Linked DNA regions of Homo sapiens: region 2 is linked to region 1. The links come from fine-mapping of genetic effects on gene expression. A gene starts in region 1. The other region holds a variant in brackets. All regions are shown on one strand. Distances are between the middles of the regions.

What was found. PIP is the estimated chance that this variant, and not a neighbour inherited with it, causes the effect.
Region 2: its variant is fine-mapped to the expression of DRC2 in gastroesophageal junction (GTEx, PIP above 0.99).

Annotation. Positions count from the first base shown.
Region 1 is chr12:48,898,126-48,908,689 of GRCh38, reverse strand. It overlaps DRC2 (dynein regulatory complex subunit 2), which reads right to left and starts at 4,557. Exons shown (of 8, transcript NM_033124.5): 1 at 4,222-4,557; 2 at 3,577-3,744. The coding sequence starts at 4,353. It also overlaps the pseudogene RPL32P27. RefSeq lists silencers at 4,551-4,600, 7,078-7,278.
Region 2 is chr12:48,931,148-48,941,711 of GRCh38, reverse strand. It overlaps ARF3 (ARF GTPase 3), which reads left to right. Exons shown (of 5, transcript NM_001659.3): 2 at 524-764; 3 at 1,605-1,715; 4 at 1,933-2,057; 5 at 2,604-5,989. The coding sequence starts at 617. The coding sequence ends at 2,765. It also overlaps a transcript of FKBP11 not described here. Among named protein-coding and RNA genes, the nearest start is that of FKBP11, 11 kb to the right of the region's middle. RefSeq lists a silencer at 5,034-5,223. The variant T/C (reference allele first, on the strand shown) is at 6,193.

The sequences.
Region 1 (10,564 bases):
GGCAGAGGTTGCAGTGAGCCAAGATTGTGCCACTGCACTCCTGCCTGGGTGACTCTGTCTAAAAATAAAATAAATAAATAAATAATAATAATAATAATAATAATAATAATAATAATAATCCTGGTAGTTCTGCAGAGAATCTAGAGGCAGTTCAATGTGAAGGGTGGAAAACAGGAAACTATTACTAATAGTGTAGGTTAGAGATGATGCCCAGGTCTCAACTACAGGAGGACAGTGGAAAAGGACAGCAGGGTATAGCTTTGAAAACTACTTTAAAGTAGACGACTTATACAACACTTAGTAACAAAGGTCAGGGATAGATGCAAAATCTAGGATGGACCGAGCCCAGTGGCTCATGCCTGTAATACTAGCACTTTGGGAGGCCGAAGTGGGAGGACTGCTTGAGGCCAGGAGTTCAAGACCAGCATGGGCAACATAACGAGACTGCATCTCTATAAAAAATTTAAAAATTTGTTAGGTGAGGTGGTATGCTCCTGTGGTCCCAGCTACTCCAGAGGGTGAGGTGGGAGGATCAGCCTGGGCAACACAGCGAGACCTTGTCTCTACTAAAAATTAAAATAATTTAAAAATTTAGCCAGTCATAGTGAGAGCCTGTAGTCCCAACTGCTCAGGTGGGAGGATCACTTGAGCCCAGGAGCTTGAGTGTAGTGAGCTATGATTGTGCTACTGCACTTCAGCCTGGACAACAAAGTGAGACTCTGTCTCAAAAAATAAAATAAAATAAAGCCAGGGTAATGTGTAAGATTGGCCCTAGAAAACTGGTTAAAGGGTGAGATGGCCAGACTCAGAAATCCGGGGAATGCTGAAGTTCAGAGGATGGAGAGAGGAAGATAAACTCACTGGAGTGACTGATTTATGTCCCAGAGGTAGGAAAAATGACAGAATGGTGTCATGCAAGCCAAAGGAGAATTTCAAGACCCAGGGCATGACCAAGAATGTCAGTGCCATAGAGAGGTTAGGTTAGATAAAGACTAAATGATGAAAAGTAGCCACAATTCTGAACCAGTGGCCTTTACCTGAGCAGTTTCCTAGAGAAGGGTAGAAATCAGATGCTGTGGGATACAGGGTAAAATGGAAGTGAAGAAGTAGAGATAGTGAGGATCACTAACATTTCCACATTTAATATGTGTAGTCTCATTCAGGAATGACCCTGAAGGTGGTTAATATTAACAGTGTGTGATTTACCTAAGCAAGAACTGTTATCATAAGCTGCAAGGCTGCTGTGTAGGAAGAAGTTAATTGTCTCGGGGTGAACCTGGCCAACTACTCAGCTTCCCTTAACCCATTCATGCCTGAGGTTGCAAATATTTTTTGTGAAAAATCAGATCTTGGCGATGACCTTGAACAGTACGAGATACATAACTCCCACAAACTTAGCATTCCAATAATGGAACACTAGGCAATGAACACTGCTGTTCTTATCAAGTGTTTTTTTGTTTTGTTTTGTTTTTTTTGAGACGGAGTCTCGCTCTGTCACCCAGGCTGGAGTGCAGTGGCACAATCTCTGCTCACTGCAAGCTCCACCTCCCGGGTTCACGCCATTCTCCCGCCTCAGCCTCCCGAGTAGCTGGGACTACAGGTGCCCGCCACCACGCCTGGCTAATTTTTTGTATTTTTAGTAGAGATGGGGTTTCACCATGTTAGCCAGGATGGTCTCGATCTCCTGACCTCGTGATCCGCCTGCCTCAGCCTCCCAAAGTGCTGGGATTACAGGCTTGAGCCACCGTGCCTGGCCCTCTTATCAAGTGTTTGATAACTTCCAATAAGTGTCTGAAAAAGCCTCTTAAAAATCCATAAGGTATGGGCTGGGCGCGGTGGCTAACGTCTGTAATCCCAGCACTTTGGGAGGCCGAGGCAGGTGGATCACCTAAGGTCAGGAGTTCCAGACCAGCCTGGCCAACATGGTGAAATCCCGTCTCCACTAAAAATACAAAAATTACCTGGGCTTGGTGGTGGGCGCCTGTAATCCCAGCTATTCAGGAGGTTGAGGCAGGAGAATCGCTTGAACCCAGGAGGCAGAGGTTGCAGTGAGCCGAGATCGCGCCACTGTACTCCAGCCTGGTGACAAGAGTGAAACTCCTCAGTGGCTGGGCGTGGTGGCTCATGCCTGTAATCCCAGCACTTTGGGAGACTGAGGCGGGCGGATCACCTGAGGTCGGGAGTTTAAGACCAGCCTAACCGACATGAAGAAACCCCATCTCTACTAAAAATACAAAATTAGTGGGCGTGGTGGCACATGCCTGTAATCCCAGCTACTCAGGAGGCTGAACTCGGGAGGCGGAGGTTGCAGTGAGCCAAGACTGCGCCATTGCACTCCAGCCTGGGCAACAGGAGTGAAACTCTGCCTCAAAAAAAAAAAAAAAAAATCCATAAGGTGTAACTGGTGGGGTATGTGGACTTCTAATGAATAATGGTTATTGCAAATTTGAGGACTCTTAATATTTATCTCTGGAAGCTGCCCAGGGTCTGCTGAGCTCTTTCCCCAGGGATTAGGCTATGAAAGAGAAATGTGTGTTTTCTAGAGGGGGAATACCATGTTGGCAATGTATATTTTGCTGTTACTGTGGGCTTTGTTTTGTTGAAAATGGAAAAGACTCTGGCTGGGTGCAGTGGCTCACGCCTGTAATCCCAGCACTTTGGGAGGCCAAGGCGGGTGGGTCACAAGGTCAGGAGATCGAGACCATCCTGGCCAACATGGTGAAACCCCCATCTCAACTAAAAATACAAAAATTAGCCAGGCATGGTGGCACATGCCTGTAGTCACAGCTACTCGGGAGGCTGAGGCAGAAGAATCACTTGAACCTGGGAGGCAGAGGTTGCACTGAGCCGAGATTGTGCCACTGCACTCCAGCCTGGCAACAGAGCAAGACTCCATGTCAAATAAATAAATAAATAAATAATGGAAAAGACTAAGGAGAAGGCAGTAAATGGAGGCAGAATATTAAAAGTAAGACAAAAGAAGGGGTACAGAAAATCCCTTAGAAGAAAAGATAGGATGGAATCAAGAACTCAAGAACCTCCCAAGAGCATAAGGATGGCTGATTGAATTGCTTAGAAATCCAGAACTGCTCTTACCCATGGAGATCTTCTCAACCTTATCCAGGGCCACTGAAGTTGAATCAAGAGGCCAAACAATTTAGTTGAATGGAGCACTGCAGTGGGAATCAATAAACACATGCTGGAGTCCTGGTTCTCTCACTGACTAGCTATGTGACCTTGGGCAAGTCAGTTCCCCTCTGGAACTGAGCCTTCTGACATTGAAATGAAGGTGTGGGACTCATTTCAAGTCACTGGGTGATGTCTACTGTGCCTTATGACTCTACTATTGGATAGTACTGGTTTTGGGCAATAGATGACAAGAAGAGTGGGTCCTCTAAGGGAGAGAGGGATGAAAGCCCAATATTCTATTTTTTATTTCTGTGAAAACCATTATTACCAATAGCCTGGCTTTCTCACAGCCTGTGTCTTGTGAGGGCTTTAAGATGGATTCACTAGGCTCATTCTATTAAGAGGTCAGGAAGCCATACTCAAGGTTTCCTTGGAAAGAGTGCCTACCTTGATGACATTGTCCTTACAGTCCACCACTCGTTCAAATGTTTGGCTGAGGATCTCAATGTCCTTATGAAGTTCTCTGGTCTTGACTTCCCGAAGGACAGTTCTCCACTGTGTGTTAATCTTATTAAGGTTCAGAGCACTGTTGTGTTCCTCCTTGGCCAGCTTGTCCTGTGTGAAGGAATAAATATACCTCCAGGAAGTCAGGGCCTTTCAGTACAACAAACAAGATCACTCTTAATTTATCAGCTGACACCTTACCCCTTTTCGATGGGAACGGCCTGATGGCATTTAGGGAGGGCAAGGGTGAATTTCCTTCAGGGTGGGAGCATCAGAGTAGGATGTTGTTTGTAATGACCTATCTCCAGGGAGAATATCAGCATTCCAGACAGCTGGAACAGCTGACAGGACCTACGGTCCCAGTTCTGGGATTCAGTAAAGATTGCCAAGCCGTATACCACGCACCCCCTCCGTGCTTCGCAGAGAACACCCCCGCCTCCCAAACAATGTTGCCTGAAATCTAAGTATATCTGGGTCTCAGGATTTCCGGAGGAGGGGAGGTCAGGATGAAAATGAGGTTTCCTCAGTGACAGGGCCAGGGCAGGGGGTGGATGGGGTTGAGCAGGACATAATGCAAAAGGCCATCACCTTCAAGAACTGGCTGAGGAGCCTCTCCTTCTTTTTGGCCATCTCCTCCTCTGCCAGCAACTTCTGCTGAAACAGAAGCAGCTGCTTCTCATCGGACAGGGGCGTCTTGGCCATTTTTTCTTTCTTAGGCATGGGGGCAGGGGATTGGATCCGGGAAAGAAGCCTCGGTCTGCCTCGGCCCGCGTTACAGAGCTTAGAAGAAAAATGTCCCTAGAAAGGGGACTTCCAGAAGTGCCCCTGGTTGTGGGCGGTTGTGGGACCGGAGATCTCAGCCCTCGAACAGGAGAGATCCCCGGCTATCAGTGAGGCTGAGCTCTCCCACTGTAAGACGCGTCTAGTCTCCTAGCAACGAGGATATCGCTAACATGGAGAGGCAACAGGCTAGAAGAGTCCCTGTCTTGGAGCGCCCCCTACCCAGTGGAGGACCGCGGTCGGTTTTTGAGAGGGTCCTTTTAACTCTCAAAAATCTGTCTCCTCAGTGCATTTTATTTATTTATTTATTTATTTATTTATTTATTTATTTATTTATTTTTGACATAGAGTCTCTCTCTGTCGCCTAGGATGGGCACGATCTCGGCTCACTGCAACCTCCGCCTCCCGGGTTCAAGCAATTCTCCTGTCTCAGCCTCCCCTCAGTGCACTTTTATAAACCGTCCTCAGAACCCTTGGGAAGCCCAAGATCGTCAAAAAGAGAACCAAGAAGTTTATCCGGCACCAGTCTGACCGATATGTCAAAATTAAGCGTAACCGGCGGAAACCCAGAGGTATTGACAACAGGGTTCGTGGAAGGTTCAAGGGTTAGATCTTGATGCCCAACATTGATTATGGGAGCAACAAGAAAACAAAGCACATGCTGCCCAGTGGCTTCCGGAAATTCCTGGTCCACACGTCAAGGAGCTGGAAGTGCTGCTGTTGTGCAACAAATCTTACTGTGCTGAGATCGCTCACAATGTTTCCTCCAAGAACCGCAAAGCCATCGTGGAAAAGAGCTGCCCAGCTGGCCGTCAGAGTCACCAACCCCAATCCCAGGCTGCGCAGCAAAGAAAATGAGTAGACAGCTCATGTGTATGTTTTCTGTTTAAATAAAACTGTAAAAACTGCAAACAACAACAACAACAAAAACCTTTTTTAAAAAGATAAGTGTTGGAGAGAATGTGGAGAAACGAGAACCCTCATATATTGGTGGTAGAAATGTAAAATGGTGTAGCCACTTTGGAAAACAGTTTGGCAATTTTTTAAAATGTTAAACATAAATTTACCATGTGACCCAATAATTTCACTCTTAGGGATCTGCCTAAGAGAAATGAAAGCATGTATACACACAAAAACTTGCACAGGAATTTTCTTATCTGTCTCACTCATAATAGCCCAGTTGGAAAAATTGGAGACAACCTAAATGTCCATTAACATGTGAATGAGTAGACAAAATATGCTATGTCCATACAATGGAATATTATTCAGAACAAACTATGGATACCAGCTACAATGTGGATGAACCTCAAAAAGAATATGCAGGCTGGGCGCTGTGCCTCACACCTGTAATCCCAGCACTTTGGGAGGCCGAGGCGGGAGGATCGTTTTAGCCCAAGAGATCGAGACTAGCTTGAGCAATGTGGCGAAACCCCTTCTCCACAAAAAATACAAAAGAAGTTAGCTGGGCGTGGTGGTGCGTACCTGTTGTCCCAGCTACCCCAGGAGGCTGAGGTGAGAAGATCACCTGAGCCCCAGAGGTCAAGCCATAGTCAAGCCACTGCACTCCAGTTGGGTGACAGAGCAGCCCTGTATCAAAAAGAAACAACAACAAAAACAAAACAAACAAACCCTTTTTTTTTTTTTAAGACTGGAGTCTCACTCTGTCACCCAGGCTGGAGTGCAGTGCGTGATCTCGGCTCACTGCAACCTCCACCGCCCGGGTTCAAGAAATTCTCCTGCCTCAGCCTCCCGAGTAGCTGGACTACAGGTGTCACCACCATGCCTGCCTAATTTTTGTATTTTTAGTAGAGACGGGGTTTCATCATCTTGGCCAGGTTGGTCTCAAACTCCTGACCTCAAATGATCCACCAACCTCGGCCTCCCAAAGTGCTGGGATTACAGGCGTGAGCCACCATGTTCGGCCAAAAAAACCCCTATGCTCAGTGAAATAAGCCAGACACAAGTGATTACATATTGTATGGTTCCATTTATATGAAATATCCGGAAAAGGCCAAGCTATAAAGACAGAAAGTAGATTACTTTCTTTTCTTCTCCCTTCCCTTCCCTTCCTTTCTTTCTCTCTTTCTCTCTCCCTCTCCCTCTCTCTCTCCTTTTTTGACTGAGTCTTTCTCTGTTGCCCAGGCTGGAGTGAGGTGGCACAGTCTCGGCTCACTGCAACCTGCACCTCCCAGGTTCAAGTGATTCTCCTGCCTCAGCTTCCCAAGTAGCTGGGATTACAGGCACCCGCTACCACACCCGGCTAATTTTTTGTATTTTTAGTAGAGATGGGGTTTCACCATGTTGGATCACCTAAGGTCGGGAGTTCGGGACCAGCCTGACCAACATGGAGAAACCCCATCGCTACTAAAAAGACAAAATTAGCTGGGCGTGGTGGCACATGCCTGTAATCCCAGCTACTCAGGAGGCTGAGGCAGGAGAATCGCTTGGACCCAGGAGGCGGAGGTTGCGGTGAGCTGAGATCGTGCCATTGCACTCCAGCCTGGGCAACAAGAGCGAAACTCCGTATTTAAAAAAAAAAAAAAAAAGCGAATTATGTGATATGCAACATGTGCCCCAATAAAGTTGTTTTAAATATGAAATATAATACATTACTCAGAACTCTCCAGAAAAACAGAACCAATAGGATGTGTGTATTTATTTATTATAAGCAATCGGTGTTATTATTGGAGGCTCAGAAGTCCCAAGATCTGCAATTAGCAACCTGGAGATTTAGGAGAACCGATGTGTAGTTCTAGACTAAAAGCCAGCCAGCTCAAGGTCCAAGAAGAGTCTGAGTTTCAGTCTGAGTCAGAAGGCCAGAAAAGACTGCCTCAGCTTAGGCAGTTAGTCAGGAGGAGCTGCTTTTACTCAGCCTTTTTGGTTTATTCATGTCTTCAATGATTGGATGAGGCTCACCCATGTTACAAGGGCAATCTGCTTTACTCAATCTACCACTAATTAATTCTCAATCCAATTCAAATATTAATCTCATCTGGAAACACCCTCACAGACAAAACCAGAATAATTTTTTTTTGTTTATTTTTCTTTAGACAGAAAACTCATTTTGTCACCCAGGCTGGAGTACAGTGATGCAATTGTAGCTCAGTGCAACCTCGAACTCCTGGACTTTAGGGATCCTCCCACCTCAGCCTTCTGAGTAGCTGGGACTACAGGTGTGCACCACCATACTCAGTGTTTTTTTTTTTTTTTAGTCATAGTCTTGCTGTTGCTGTTGTCAGCCTGGGCTGGAGTGCAATGGCATGATCTTGGCTCACTGCAACCTCCGCCTCGCAGGTTTCAGCAATTCTCCTGACTCAGCCTCCGGAGTAGCTGAGATTACAGGCATCCACCACCACGCCTAGCTAATTTTTGTATTTTTAGTAGAGACGGGGTTTCACCATGTTGGCCAGCTGGTCTCGAACTCCTGGAACTCCTAACCTCAGGTGATCCACCCACCTTGGCCTCCCAAAGTGCTGGGATTACAGGCGTGAGCCACCGTGCCCAGCCAACTATTTTTTTTTATTTTAATTTTTTTGTAGCGACTGGGTCTTGCTATGATGCCCTGGCCGGTCTTAAATTCCTGGCTTCAAGCGATCCTCCTACCTCAGCCAACCAAAGTGCTGGGATTACAGGCACAAGCTACTGTGCCTGACCTCCAGATTAATGTTTGACCAAATGTCTGGGCCCTCCGTGGCTCAGTGAGGTTGACACATAAAATTAACCATTACAGGCCGGGCGCAGTGACTAACGCCTATAATCCCAGCACTTTGGGAGGCCGAGGCGGGCGGATCACGAGGTGAAGAGATCGAGACCATCCTGGCAAACATGGTGAAACCCCTCATAAAAATATAAAAATGAGCTGGGCGTGGTGGCACACGCCTGTAGTCCCAGCTACTCTGGAGGCTAAGGCAGGAGAATTGCTGGAACCCGGGAGGCGGAGGTTGCAGTGAGCCAGAGATTGTGCCACTGCACTGCAGTTTGGCGACAGAGCAAGACTCTGTCTCAAAAAAAAAAAAAAATTAGCTGGGCATGGTGGCACACACCTGTAGTCCCAGCTACTCAGGAGGCTGGGGTGGGAGGAACACTTGAGCCTGCATTTCGAAGCTTTGCATTGATGCTGCACCCCAGCCTGGGTGACAGAGCAAGACCCGGTCTCAAAAAGAAAAATAAAACACTAATCCCTTCCTCAGAAGAGGAGGTAAAATCCTTGAGTGATGTTTACTCTTCTTCATATCCCATAACTCAGATATTATGATGCAAAATTAATAATACTTAAAACTATGACATAAAGTTAATACATCTTATGTTACATTATGAGGGAATAAAAGAGAAAAGAAAATGAAGATATTTGCTTGATATACACACACATAAACATATAAATAACAAAATGAGGAAATACTCATGGCAATCATAGTCCTAGGGTCCATAACTGGTCACGTGGTCATAGCTGGTATTAATAGCTACCGTTTTCTACTACTATCCTATTCCCTTTGCCTTCAGCAAGCACCTTAACAGGTGTTGACCTGTTTCTTTACCTGATGGACTGACTCAAAGCTTCATTTCTGAAGGGTCTGGGCCATTAGTAGTCCTGGATTGTTTTGTTCTAGTTTTCCATTGACCTTAATCACAGGTCACAGTAATACTGAGATGACCTAAGGAATCTTCCTTAGTATATCAAGGAATCTCCTTGATATGCTCATACTTACCTCCATTGTGAAGTAATATTCCAATTTTTCTTTTTCTTTTTTTTTTTTTTTTGACGGAGTCTCACTCTATCACCCAGGCTGAAGTGCAATGGTGCAATCTCAGCTCACTGCAACCTTGGTCTCCTGGGTGCAAGCGATTCTCCTGCTTCAGCCTCCTGAGTAGCTGGAAATAGAGGTGTGCGCCACCATGCCTAGCTAATTTTTGTATTTTTATTTATTTATTTATTGTTGTTGTTGTTTGTTTTTTTTTTTGAGATGGAGTCTTGCTCTGTCGCCCAGGCTGGAGTGCAGTGGTGCGATCTTGGCTCACTGCAACCTCCGCCTCCCCAGTTCAAGCCGTTTTCCTGCCTCAGCCTCCTGAGTAGCTGGGATTACAGGTGCAATGGCATGATCTCGGCTCACCGCAACCTTTGGCTTCCAGGTTCAAATGATTCTCCTGCCTCAGCCTCTTGAGTAGCTGGGATTACAGGCATGCGCCACCATGGCTGGCTAATTTTTGTATTTAGTAGAGATGGGGTTTCACCATGTTGGCCAGGCTGGTCGTGAACTCCTGACCTCAGGTGATCTGCCTGCCTTGGCCTTCCAAAGTGCTGGGATTACAGGCATGAGCCACCATGCCCGGCCTCCAATTTTTCATTGCTAGTTAGGATCAATCACCCCAGCCAGCACAGTAACTTCTTTCTTCGCCTGCCGACACAGAGCCCTGAGGATCCCAAAGTGGCCAGGGGTCTCTAGTGGTAATTGTGCATTGTGCTATTCCCATTTCCATCCTTTAATTCCTGGACCTATGAATCCTGGCTGTGGAAGAAACAGCCCTATGTATTGAACACTGATTCAGAACATAGACAGTCTTCTAAAGATCCATGCTCAAAAAAAAAAAAAGACAAGATCCATGCTCCAGCCTTGCAAGGTGTTGTGACCTAGCTGATAACATAAATGTGTTTTCAAAAGGTCATTCCAGGCCAGGCACGGTGGCTCACACCTGTAATCCCAGCACTTTGGGAGGCCAAGGTGGGCGGATCACCTGAGGCGGGCAGATCATGAGGTCAGGAGATCGAGACCATCCTGGCCAACATGGTGAAACCCCATCTCTACTAAAAATACAAAAAATTAGCCAGGTGTGGTAGCGGGTGCCTGTAATCCCAGCTACTTGGGAAGCTGAGGCAGGAGAATCACTTGAACCTGGGAGGTGCAGGTTGCAGTGAGCCGAGACTGTGCCACCTCACTCCAGCCTGGGCAACAGAGAAAGACTCAGTCAAAAAAAGAGAGAGAGAGGGAGAGGGAGAGAGAAAGAGAGAAAGAGAGAAAGAAAGGAAGGGAAGGGAAGGGAACTCCTGAGGTCAGGAGTTCGACACCAGCCTGACCAACATGGAGAAAACCCGTCTCTACTAAAAATACCAAATTAGCTGGGCATGGCGGCGCATGCCTGTAATCTCAGCTACTCA
Region 2 (10,564 bases), 33 kb before region 1:
ATAGGAAGGGAAGAGGCAGAGTCTCTTGATTAAAGGAGAAAGCATAAACCTTGGGAAACTGGCAAGCCTGAACCTTGTCAGGAGTCACAGAGAGCCACTCCTTATTCCGCTCCCTCCTCTCCCACCCTTGCCAGAAGTCTCAGGGTAAGTAAGGTTAGGGGAGGGAGGGGCATTAATGATCTTACAATGCCTTTGGGTATAGGGTAGAATGTCAGAACTGAAGGGACTTCAGAAATCATCTAGTTCAATCCCCCTTCCATTTACAGGTGCAGATATGGAAAAGTGAAGTAACTTGCCCAGAGTCACATGGTTAGATTACTGGCAGAGCAGGGATCCTTAGTGTTTACTGCTTTGTCTCTGTTCCCAAAGACTCAGTATGTATCTGAGTGGGCCTTGGTATTTATAGTCCCCTCAGGCTCTCCGTTTGTCATGAATGAACTCTAGCCATGACCTTGGGAAATTCTATTTACTTGGAAGTCCTGACAAGCAAATGATGGTATGATTTTACATTTCCTTTGTCTAGGATCAAGTCTTCCATACCAGGGACCAGGCCAAAACCAGACTGCCACTGCCCCTACTTGGGCCCCACTGTCCCCAGAAAGCAGCTGCTGTGATCATGGGCAATATCTTTGGAAACCTTCTCAAGAGCCTGATTGGGAAGAAGGAGATGCGCATCCTGATGGTGGGCCTGGATGCCGCAGGAAAGACCACCATCCTATACAAGCTGAAACTCGGGGAGATCGTCACCACCATCCCTACCATTGGTAAGAGCACAGCTTGGATGTGGGCTTTCACGCCGGCAGCTGAGGCAGGGCAGGGACCTATTCCTGGTTCCCCAACCTGGCCTCTTCTCCCCAGGCAAGTCCATACAATTTGTGGGGTTCAGAAAAGAGGGTGGTGTTGTTTAGCTTACTACCAGGTGCTGAGGCTGCTGTTTGCCCACCTAACCTGGCTCTCCCTGATGCGGGAACTTCCATGGCCTGGCACTCAACAGCTGCCCTCAGGCACGGAGTTGGTTTCTTCTCTGTGTTGTTTGGAAAGCAGGTAAAAGGCTTTGATGTTCCTGCCAAAGGCTTGGAATTACTTGGGTTTAGATCTTTGGTGGCCAATCTTGGTTACAGTTTGCTGAAGGGAGGTCTCCCTACATTTGCTATGTAGATGGGGGCTCCAGTCAGCATTGTCAGCTGGCTCTGCCTTTGGGGCTCCAGGATGCCAGCTTACTTCCCTTTCTTCACTCTGCCTCTCAGGCCCCACATCTTAGCTGAGGCCGACTCTGGTAGCCAAAGTACCAGAGCAGGGCTGAGTCATTTTGTAGGAGGGAGCACCAAAGACTGAGTGGAAAAGTCAGGAAAGTTGGCCCACGTTACCCAGGCAACTGTGAACCTCTCAACCAACTTCCTCATCCTCTTTGACTTCTCTTAGGTTTTCATTTTGGCCTTCAGGCTGCTAGCTTAACGATTATCAGGTCTGAGGAAGCCTTAGCTTTTGTTCCATTGTTGGTGTTATGGCCACCACTGGGGGAAAGCAGAACCAAACTCATTGTGGTGGTGTTTGCGGGGCTAGTGTTTGAGGCCAAGTGGCCATTGCCTGTTTTTTTTCCAAAGGGTTCAATGTGGAGACAGTGGAGTATAAGAACATCAGCTTTACAGTGTGGGATGTGGGTGGCCAGGACAAGATTCGACCCCTCTGGAGACACTACTTCCAGAACACCCAAGGTATGCTCAGGCCTAGCGTGGGTTGGTTGGGTATGAGCAGAGAGTGTGGCTGTCTTTGTTAATGGGTGGCCAACTGTTACCCTGCTGCAGCTCCTGGGGGCAGAAGAAAGGGAGGAAAGGGAGCAAATATTTGGAGGGTGTCAGGCAGGTGTGGTCTTTTGGTTGGGGGGAGGGGGTTACCTGTCATCTTAGTGCAGCCCATGCTCTGCCTTCCTAGGGTTGATATTTGTGGTCGACAGCAATGATCGGGAGCGAGTAAATGAGGCCCGGGAAGAGCTGATGAGAATGCTGGCGGAGGACGAGCTCCGGGATGCTGTACTCCTTGTCTTTGCAAACAAACAGGTGAGACTTCTTCCCACCCCTGAATTTGGGAGACAGCAAACTGGCTGTGGAAATTGTTGGCTCTTGGGCCTATTATATGGTTAACCCTTTTAGTATGCTCTCAATGTTAGAAGCGTGGGAAACTGAGCACTTGGCTTCTTTATGCCCCTCTTCTTGTGCCCCACCCCAAGCTTTATTTAGCAACATTTCAGTCCTCAGGAATTGTCTCAAATCTTTCTTTCATCTTGCCTGTTATCTACTTTAGGAGAATTGGCCTCACTCCTGCTGTCAGACAGACCTGATTCTTTGGTCAGTCTGAATCACGTCTCTTGCTTCCCCACCATCCTCGTATTTGGTTTCCAATTCTTCAGTACAGTGACCTCTAGTGCTTTGGATCTTGAGTTCTAGGTGACTAAATCCAAAGTAGCTCCTTAGGATCTTGTTCTGGGTTTCCTAAAATAAAGGAGGAGGGGAAGGTGCTGGTACACATTTCTTTGGTAGATGGGTGTTCTAGAAGCCTTTAAAAAATCCTGAGGCTTCTTTTTATGTGTCTCCCACGTGCTCCAGGATCTGCCTAATGCTATGAACGCTGCTGAGATCACAGACAAGCTGGGCCTGCATTCCCTTCGTCACCGTAACTGGTACATTCAGGCCACCTGTGCCACCAGCGGGGACGGGCTGTACGAAGGCCTGGACTGGCTGGCCAATCAGCTCAAAAACAAGAAGTGAAAGCCAGACAGCCCTAACAAAGCACCCCACCCACCCCTGACATACCTACTGTCACCCTGCCCCAGTCCTACCCCTTCCTCTCCATGCAAGTGTGGCCAGGGCCCTGGGTATCATGTCCACATGCCCAGCAAGAGCCTTGCCTCCCCTGCCTCCCCTCCTTTTTCCTGTCCACCTATATGACCAATCCCTAATTGCTGTCCTGATGATGAGTCATTCCAATTTACTGGATTTAAAACAAAAAGTTGTTACGGTTTCATGGGGTGGCCCCTCTCTCTCTCACCCTCTGGGTTTCGGGAGGTCGAGTGGGGTATTCTCTTTGTTTGGCAGTGGTTGCTGTCCTCTTGGCATCTGAGTCCTTTCCCTGTCCCCACAAGCCCTTCTACTCCCTGTTTGCCTTTCCTTTGCCACCCTCTCCCTGTTTTACATGGAAATTGCACGGGCCTCTCTGTGTTTGCGTGCATGTGTGCGCCTGTATATACATGTATAGAGAGATATATTTGTGGGGGCCGGGGGGAGCGGGGAGGGGGTGGAGTGAAGCTCAGGGCTTGCAGCCAGGACACTGCCCACTGGAGCCTGTCATCTGCCCCTTCCGTGTTGGTGAGATTAAGGGAAGAAGGTGGGAGGGCATTAGTCAAGCCGGACTGCCCCAGTCTTTGACTGGTTACCCTCCTCTCTGCAGGTAGGTTTTTCTGGATGATAGGACAGATGATGGATTCTTCACCACCATTTTCCTTGTACTCTTCTCTCCACCCTTCTTAGGGCTGGAGGATGGCATTTATCTCTAGATGACTGTTCCCAAGGAGATGCCACTCTGCTCTGCCTTACTGTTGGGAAGGAGAGAGGAACCCACTCACTCTTATCAGCTTAGAGTGTTCAACTGATCCTTCCCCACCATCTTCAGATCTGTTCCTCTGGAGCTTGACTGGGGGGTGGGGATGGCAAGTCCATGGTGTGTGTTAGGGACCCAGGGCATTGGGGGAAGGGAGGCGAAGGCCTGAGGTTTTCCATCTTCATTCTCTTTTGTTATTAGGAGAAGGTGAGGCATGGGCCAATCCCATTCCTGCCTTCCAGTGCCCCACCACCCTTCTGATCTTAGGGGTTGGATGGGTCATCTGTCCTTGGTCAGAATTTTCTCACCCTAGTACTCCTACTGGCCTGACCAGGGCTGACTGGGTATTCTAATGAGGAGCTGGGAAGTGGGGTGACATAGCTGACCTTAGTATCAACCCCCCTCTTCTCCAACTCTTGTTTTCTAGTCCAGGATATGCTAAAGGACGAAGATTTTCTATTGTTTCCAGGCCCTCAGACCATCCTTGCTGTCCCTTCACCCTCCATGCCCCTGCCATCCTCACTCACTTCTCATAAATGGATCTGGGGGTTAGAGTGGAGGAAATAAAATCCTGAAGTGGTTGTCAGTGCTTGTGGGATGCAGTGGTCTTCAGGATTCTCCCCGCATTATTATGTAGTTGTTCAGAAGCTGTTGCTACTGCGTCTCTCTGTCTGCAGGGGGCACTTGTTCCTGAGGTCCTCGCCTGGGTCCTGACTTCTGTAGTTTCTGTGAAGACGTGGCTGTCCTGTGGGCTCCTGTGTGTGCTGGCTGCGCCCTGAGCTCCGAGACAGCTGCCCATAACCTGCTAAGGTCAGGGCCCAGGGCCCCCCACAGCATGGCTGAGGGACCCCTTCCCAGTAGGGCTGTCCCAAGCCCCACTCCATGGGGCCAGGTTTCCTGGCCACTTTTGTTGATAGCAGATGGATCAATATTAGTAACCCCATCCAAGATTGAACTGTGAAAGAGAGGTTCCAGGGGTATCTCCCTCAGTGCCAGTTACTTAGTGATGTGTTACCCAGGATGCAGCAGGTGTGTGCAGGTATCTTGCTCTCTAGGCCTGTGTGTGTGTGTGAGTGTGTGTGTATATGGGTGTGGGTGTGTTTGTGTGTGGTGGTTGTGGGGGGGGTGTTGGAGGTTCTATTTCATTTAAAAATGTATTCATTTCCCTGGCCCCACAGATGCTTCCCTCCATACTTTTTATTTGCTCTGTTTCCTCAGATTTATTTTGTCTTGCCCCATTGCCTCTCCTTCCTTGAACTCTTTCCTTTTCAATCTCAACTCATTCACTGCTGTTGCTCATTTGCCCTTTTCCATGTATTTTTTCCTACTTAGGATTTTCCACTCTATCTTTGTGGTTCATGAGGACTTTGCCTCTTCTCCTGCCTCATTCCCTGACTTTCTCTAGTTAGATGTCAGTCCTAAATAGGTTTTCCTCACTTCAGGCCTCACCCCTCACCTTGTTTTTTTGGGGGCTCCAGGGACCAATCTGGGGCTGGAAATGTTAGGAGGTTGCCTTGGTGCTGCCCCAGATCTGTCCAGCAGGGGGCAGTAAGTGATCTTGGTAGTATCCCTGGCTGCTAAGCCCTTGGCAGGGGTGGTCCTTTCTACATTCCCATTCACTTAACAGCTCTTTTGGGATTGGGTGTTTCATTCCATTTCTGCCCACTCCCTCTCCTCTCCTCTCTGGTAGGTTTAATTTTATGCTTTCCCTGATTCCAGCTTTCTGCTTCCTGAGGACTCCCGCTCCCCCCACCCCAAAGTTTGTCTGTGGTGTTATAGTGGTAACTGCAGTTCCTCCTCTGGAATGTAGACTGTATATGTTTAATAACTCACCTTCTCTATCCTTGCTCAAAATGTGGGATAACGCGATGACTGTGACCCTGGTTGGAAATTAAACTTGTTTTATGCAGCTTTGGAGCCGACCTTCATCTTTGCTGTGCAGCAGCCGTGGGACAGTAGTTTCATGGTGAGGGGAGTCCTGTTTCTGGTCCCTCTCTCCATAGTGCTCCTTCTTTCAGCAAAGGGGTAAAAGGCACACTTGATTGATAGAGAGTAAGGTTATGGAGGAACTTAGTGCCACTCCACACTGGTTATTTCTTCCCATCATACCCCGCGGCGGGGGAGCCCAAATGAATTGGGCATCAGAGTGTGAGGGCTTCGTGACTTTCCTCCTCTAGTTCTAAAGGGTTTAAACCTGAAATCAGCTGTATTTCTCACCTGTTGGTAGACTGTATGGACTTCACTGGCTGAAGGGCCCTGAACTTGGAGGGCCCCATGTGCCTCTACTCTCAGATCTCCTCAGCCTTGCACATGAGGTGCTTCTAGTTTGAACAGAGACCCCCTCACTAGTCTAGTTCTGGACTTTGGCAGTGAATAAACATGAAGGATAAACGTCTGGGCAGTGTAATGACCTTAATCCTTCTTACAACTGATGGCCCTGCATCAGCTCTACTTCAGGCGTGTGGTTTTTCATTGTCAGGATGCCAAGCCTCATCCAGAGATCCCACAAATGTCTTGAGGAATAGACCTTTTCCATAAAGCCTCCATCCTCCCATCGCACTCCCACCACTATTCTGTTCCTCCCCTGCTACCAGTGTC[T/C]GGCTCCAGGCAAAGAAAGGGATGGTGCTACCTTTAGGGTGGGTGAGGTCTGGGTGAGCCAGGCAAGCCTTCCCCAATCTTAATATTTTCTTAAGCTTTGAGGACAGAGGTCTTCCCAGCCTGCTTTTGTGGGAAAGGGATAGGATTTAGGCATATAATAAGTTTGAGAGCCCCAAGTACCAGTGTGAAGCATATAATTTATATTCAGTTACTTCCCTGCTGCCTCCCCTGCCAATTTTCCTTTTCAGCACTTCTATTATTAATAGGCCATCACCCTCAAGGACCAGTGCTTCCACCCATATATAACTCTCAAACTACTCCAACCAGACATGTCTTATCAATCCCAATGACTTTGAACATTACCCACCTACTCCTCAAGATCAGATGACACTTTCCTCCTTCCAGGCTTCTCCAAAGTTCTGCTTGGTGACAGGGTGCTGATAAGAGTATCTTTCCCAAGTGTTTTCTTTCTTCTTCTTCTTTTTTTTTTTTTTTTTTTTTGAGACGGAATTTGGTCTTGTTGCCCAGGCTGGAGGGCAATGGCACGATATCGGCTCACCACAGCCTCTCCTCCTGGGCTCCCGGGTTCAAGCAATTCTCCTGCTTCAGCCTCCTGAGGAGCTGGGATTACAGGCATGCGCCACCACACCCGGCTAATTTTGTATTTTTAGTAGAGATGGGTTTCTCCATGTTAGTGAGACTGGTCTTGAACTCCTGACCTCAGGTGATCTGCCCACCTCAGCCTCCCAAAGTGCTAGGATTACAGGCGTGAGCCACCACGCCCGGCCAGGTGTTTTATTTCTATATTAGCAAATAGATATCTTTCAGAGCTACAACCTCTCATAATGATAAGGGAGAGGACTTTAGCTGAATGGTGGGCCACTGGGGGGTCTTTGGACCCCTGAACAACTTGGGGAAGAGGATGACCTATTCCCATCTGTCCCTTAGTACTCAATTTAGAATGCCAGGAAGGAAGTAGAGGGGAGCCCTCTTGTGGCAGTTGCTGAAGCCTTCCAGTTCTTTTGAGGGGATAGGGGATGAAGAGGAGACTGAACCTGGGAGGTAGATACTTAGCACCCAGCTCTTAGGACAAACAGCAATCCCATCTTCCAGAACATGCATAGCATCAGTCATGGACTGGCGGAAGACTTGGACCCAGGGTCCACTTCAGGATAATCTGGGCAAGGGAGCTTCCCAAATGAGCCTGTAGAAAGCCAGTGGAAGGGCTTAGGTTGGCTAAGGTGGGATGGAGGGCAAAACCCTCCCCTTCATTGCAGAGTATAGGGGCAGTGGCAGAGAATGAATGTATGTGTGGGTTTCTCAGCCTTGAGGTATAAGGTCTAAAGGCTCTGGGGATTCACTGCATACACCACTTCCAGTTCAAGCGCCTAGGTTGGTTACAGCAGGAAGTTGACAAGTATGTATTTAGTACATTCGATGTTTTTAGGCATCTGCTAAAAGTAGGTCAAACCACTGAACTCAGGGAGGGGGCTGGGGATCCATTTCTAGGATGCTGTGGAATCCTTTTGGGACATCTGTAGTATACCACGTTGGGTAGTGAGAGTTGGGGGACACCCCTTCCATTGCTGCTGCTTAGTGTAGGGAGTCATGTCTTTGGGCAGCAGTAATATTATTAAGAAAAGCTTTTTTTTTTTTTGAGACACAGTCTCTGTCACCCAGGCCGGAATGCAGTGGCGTGATCTCGGCTCACTGTAACCTCTGCCTCCCAGGTTCAAGCGATTCTTGTGCCTCAGCCTTTTCCGAGTTGCTGGGATTATGAGTGCACACCACAACTCCCTGCTAATTTTTTTTTTTTTTTTTGAGACGGAGTCTCACTCTTGCCCAAGCTGGAGTGCAATGGCGTGATCTCGGCTCACTGCAACCTCTGCCTCTCAGGTTCAAGCAATTCTCCTGCCTCAGCCTCCGAGTAGCTGGGACTACAGGTATGTGCCACCATGCCCAGCTGATTTTTCTATTTTTAGTAGAGATGGGGTTTCACCATGTTGGCCAGGCTGGTCTTGAACTTGTGACCTCAAGTGATTCGCCCACCTTGGCCTCCCAAAGCACTGGGATTACAGGCATGAGCCACCGTGCCTGGCAGAAAAGCTTCTTTTCCAGTTCTGAAGAGTGTGAAGGTAGGAGAGCCAGAATTCAGTTCTCTCACTTTCCAACCCAGTACCTGGAGAGAGAGTGTCTTGCTGGTCACTGGGGAGTGATAGGATCCGGATGCCCGCCTTCCTCTTCAAGTTTTTCTTTCTGATTGGGTTTCCTGACCCTGATTGCTGGTATGGGTAAGAATGACTCTGAATTCCTGAGAAAAGGGAAGAGGGTTAGGACAGAGGAAATGGAATCATTTAGTCAGGTAAAGGGAGCAAAGCCACCGAAGGCAGTGGTTGGAGGTGTAGATGTGAGGAAGTTGGGTTGAGACCATTCACCATCAAGGCTTGAAGATGAGTGTCTGTTTGTGTGTGTCATGTTGGCTGTGAGTTGCAGAAGAGAGTATCTGGCCTCTAGTTGAGGAGCACTTCCGGCTTCTGAGCTGAACATGGTGTAGAAGAGAGGATACTCAATCCAAAACCCTGGCTATCTATGCAGAGGGCTGACCAGTTCTACCCATGTACCCTTCCTTCCCTCACCCTTCCTCACAAACCAGGCATATTGAGAGCTGTCTGGCAGTCAATCCAGGCGAGGCAGCAGGTTTGAGAATGGGCTTGTCCGCCTGGCACCTGCTTCCCCCCACTTCCACCTTCACCCCTCCATCCCATATATCGTTCAGGGTCCTCCCAGCACAGAATTGAATAGAAGGACTTTTAAGGCTTGGAGGGCTTAGCTTGGGGCTCTAACCCACAGGAATTCTTTCTGAGTTCTGAATATAGTAATAAAGGGCACTCTTGGCCTTAGGTTATAGATAGGAGATGGGGAATCTGTTCTTGTCTTTGCCAAATCTTGCATTTATGGGATGATACCTCTTTGATTAGAACAGCCATAGGGGAAGAGTGGAGGAAGTAAGTAAGTGCTTCATTCTTGGATGAATATATGCATAAACATACCTGAAAGAAAACATCTAGTCAGCTGGGGGTATGTATACCCTTGAAAATACAACACCAGGCCAGGCATGGTGGCTCAATTCTATAACCTCAACACTTTGGGAGGCTTAGGTGGGAGGATAGCTTGAGCCCAGGAGTTTGAGATCAACCTGGGCAACATGGTGAGGCCCCATCTCTATAAGAAAAAAAAAAAAAAAAAAAAAAAAAAAAATATATATATATATATATATATATATATATATATAAATATATGTTTATATGATATATATACAATTATATGTTTATATTATATATATATATATATTTTTACTTTTATTTAAAAAAAATAGAGATGGGATTTCACTATGTTGCCCAAGCTGGTTTCAAACTCCTGGGCTCAAGCAGTCCTCCCACCCCAGCCTCCCAAAGTGCTGGATTTACAGGCATGAGCCATTGTGCCCGGCCAAAAAAAAATGTTTTTAATTAGTTGGGCATGGTGGCACGTGCCTGTGGTCCCAGCTACTCAGGAGGCTGAGGCAGGAGGATTGCTTGAGCCTGAGAGATTGAGGCTGCAGTGAGCTGTGTTTGCGCCACCGCACTGGTGACACAGCAAGACCCTGTCTCAACCAAAATCAAATTTTAAACCCAAATTTATATATGCCAACTCAGGCTTTTACTTTATTAACAACCTGTTATAAATAAACACTTAAGAACATTTAAAGAGCAGTGTTCTGCTTATTCTTTGGCACATAATAGTCATGCAACCTTGATGAACAAATGGATGAATTAATAAACACCATTGTCTTTAATCAAGCTGGGCATGGTGGGTGCCCCATGAGTCTTGGAAGCCCAGGTACTGTGGTAGGGTTTCTCCTACACACTGACAGAGACACCTTTGAGTGTGGAGGCTTTTCTAGCAATGGTTCTGTGATTAAGTTGTATCTCCAGCCAGGGGTGGGCCAACTCTCCTATCTTTCCAAGAATCATCTCACCTTTCTCTGTTGTTTGGATTTCTTCTAACTTGATCCAAGGAAAAAGCTCCTTCTCTGGTCCCTCCAGGGTGCAGATGGGCTTGTGCTGCCTGTGGGTGGATATTGTGTTTAATAGTTTTGCCCTTTCCATTTCTACTACCACCTTCTCCTACTCCACTCCTCTTCCCCTTCAGGTTCCTGAACAGAGCCTCAGACCTGGATAAGACAATAGCCTTCCACCTTCACCACACTGTTCGAGTCTGCTGATACATCAGTGCAGTATGCTGTGTCATCCTTTTGCTTAGAAACTTGCAATGTGTTCCCACTGCCTTAGTCTGACATTCAAGGTTCTTCACAACTAGCCTTTTTTTTTTT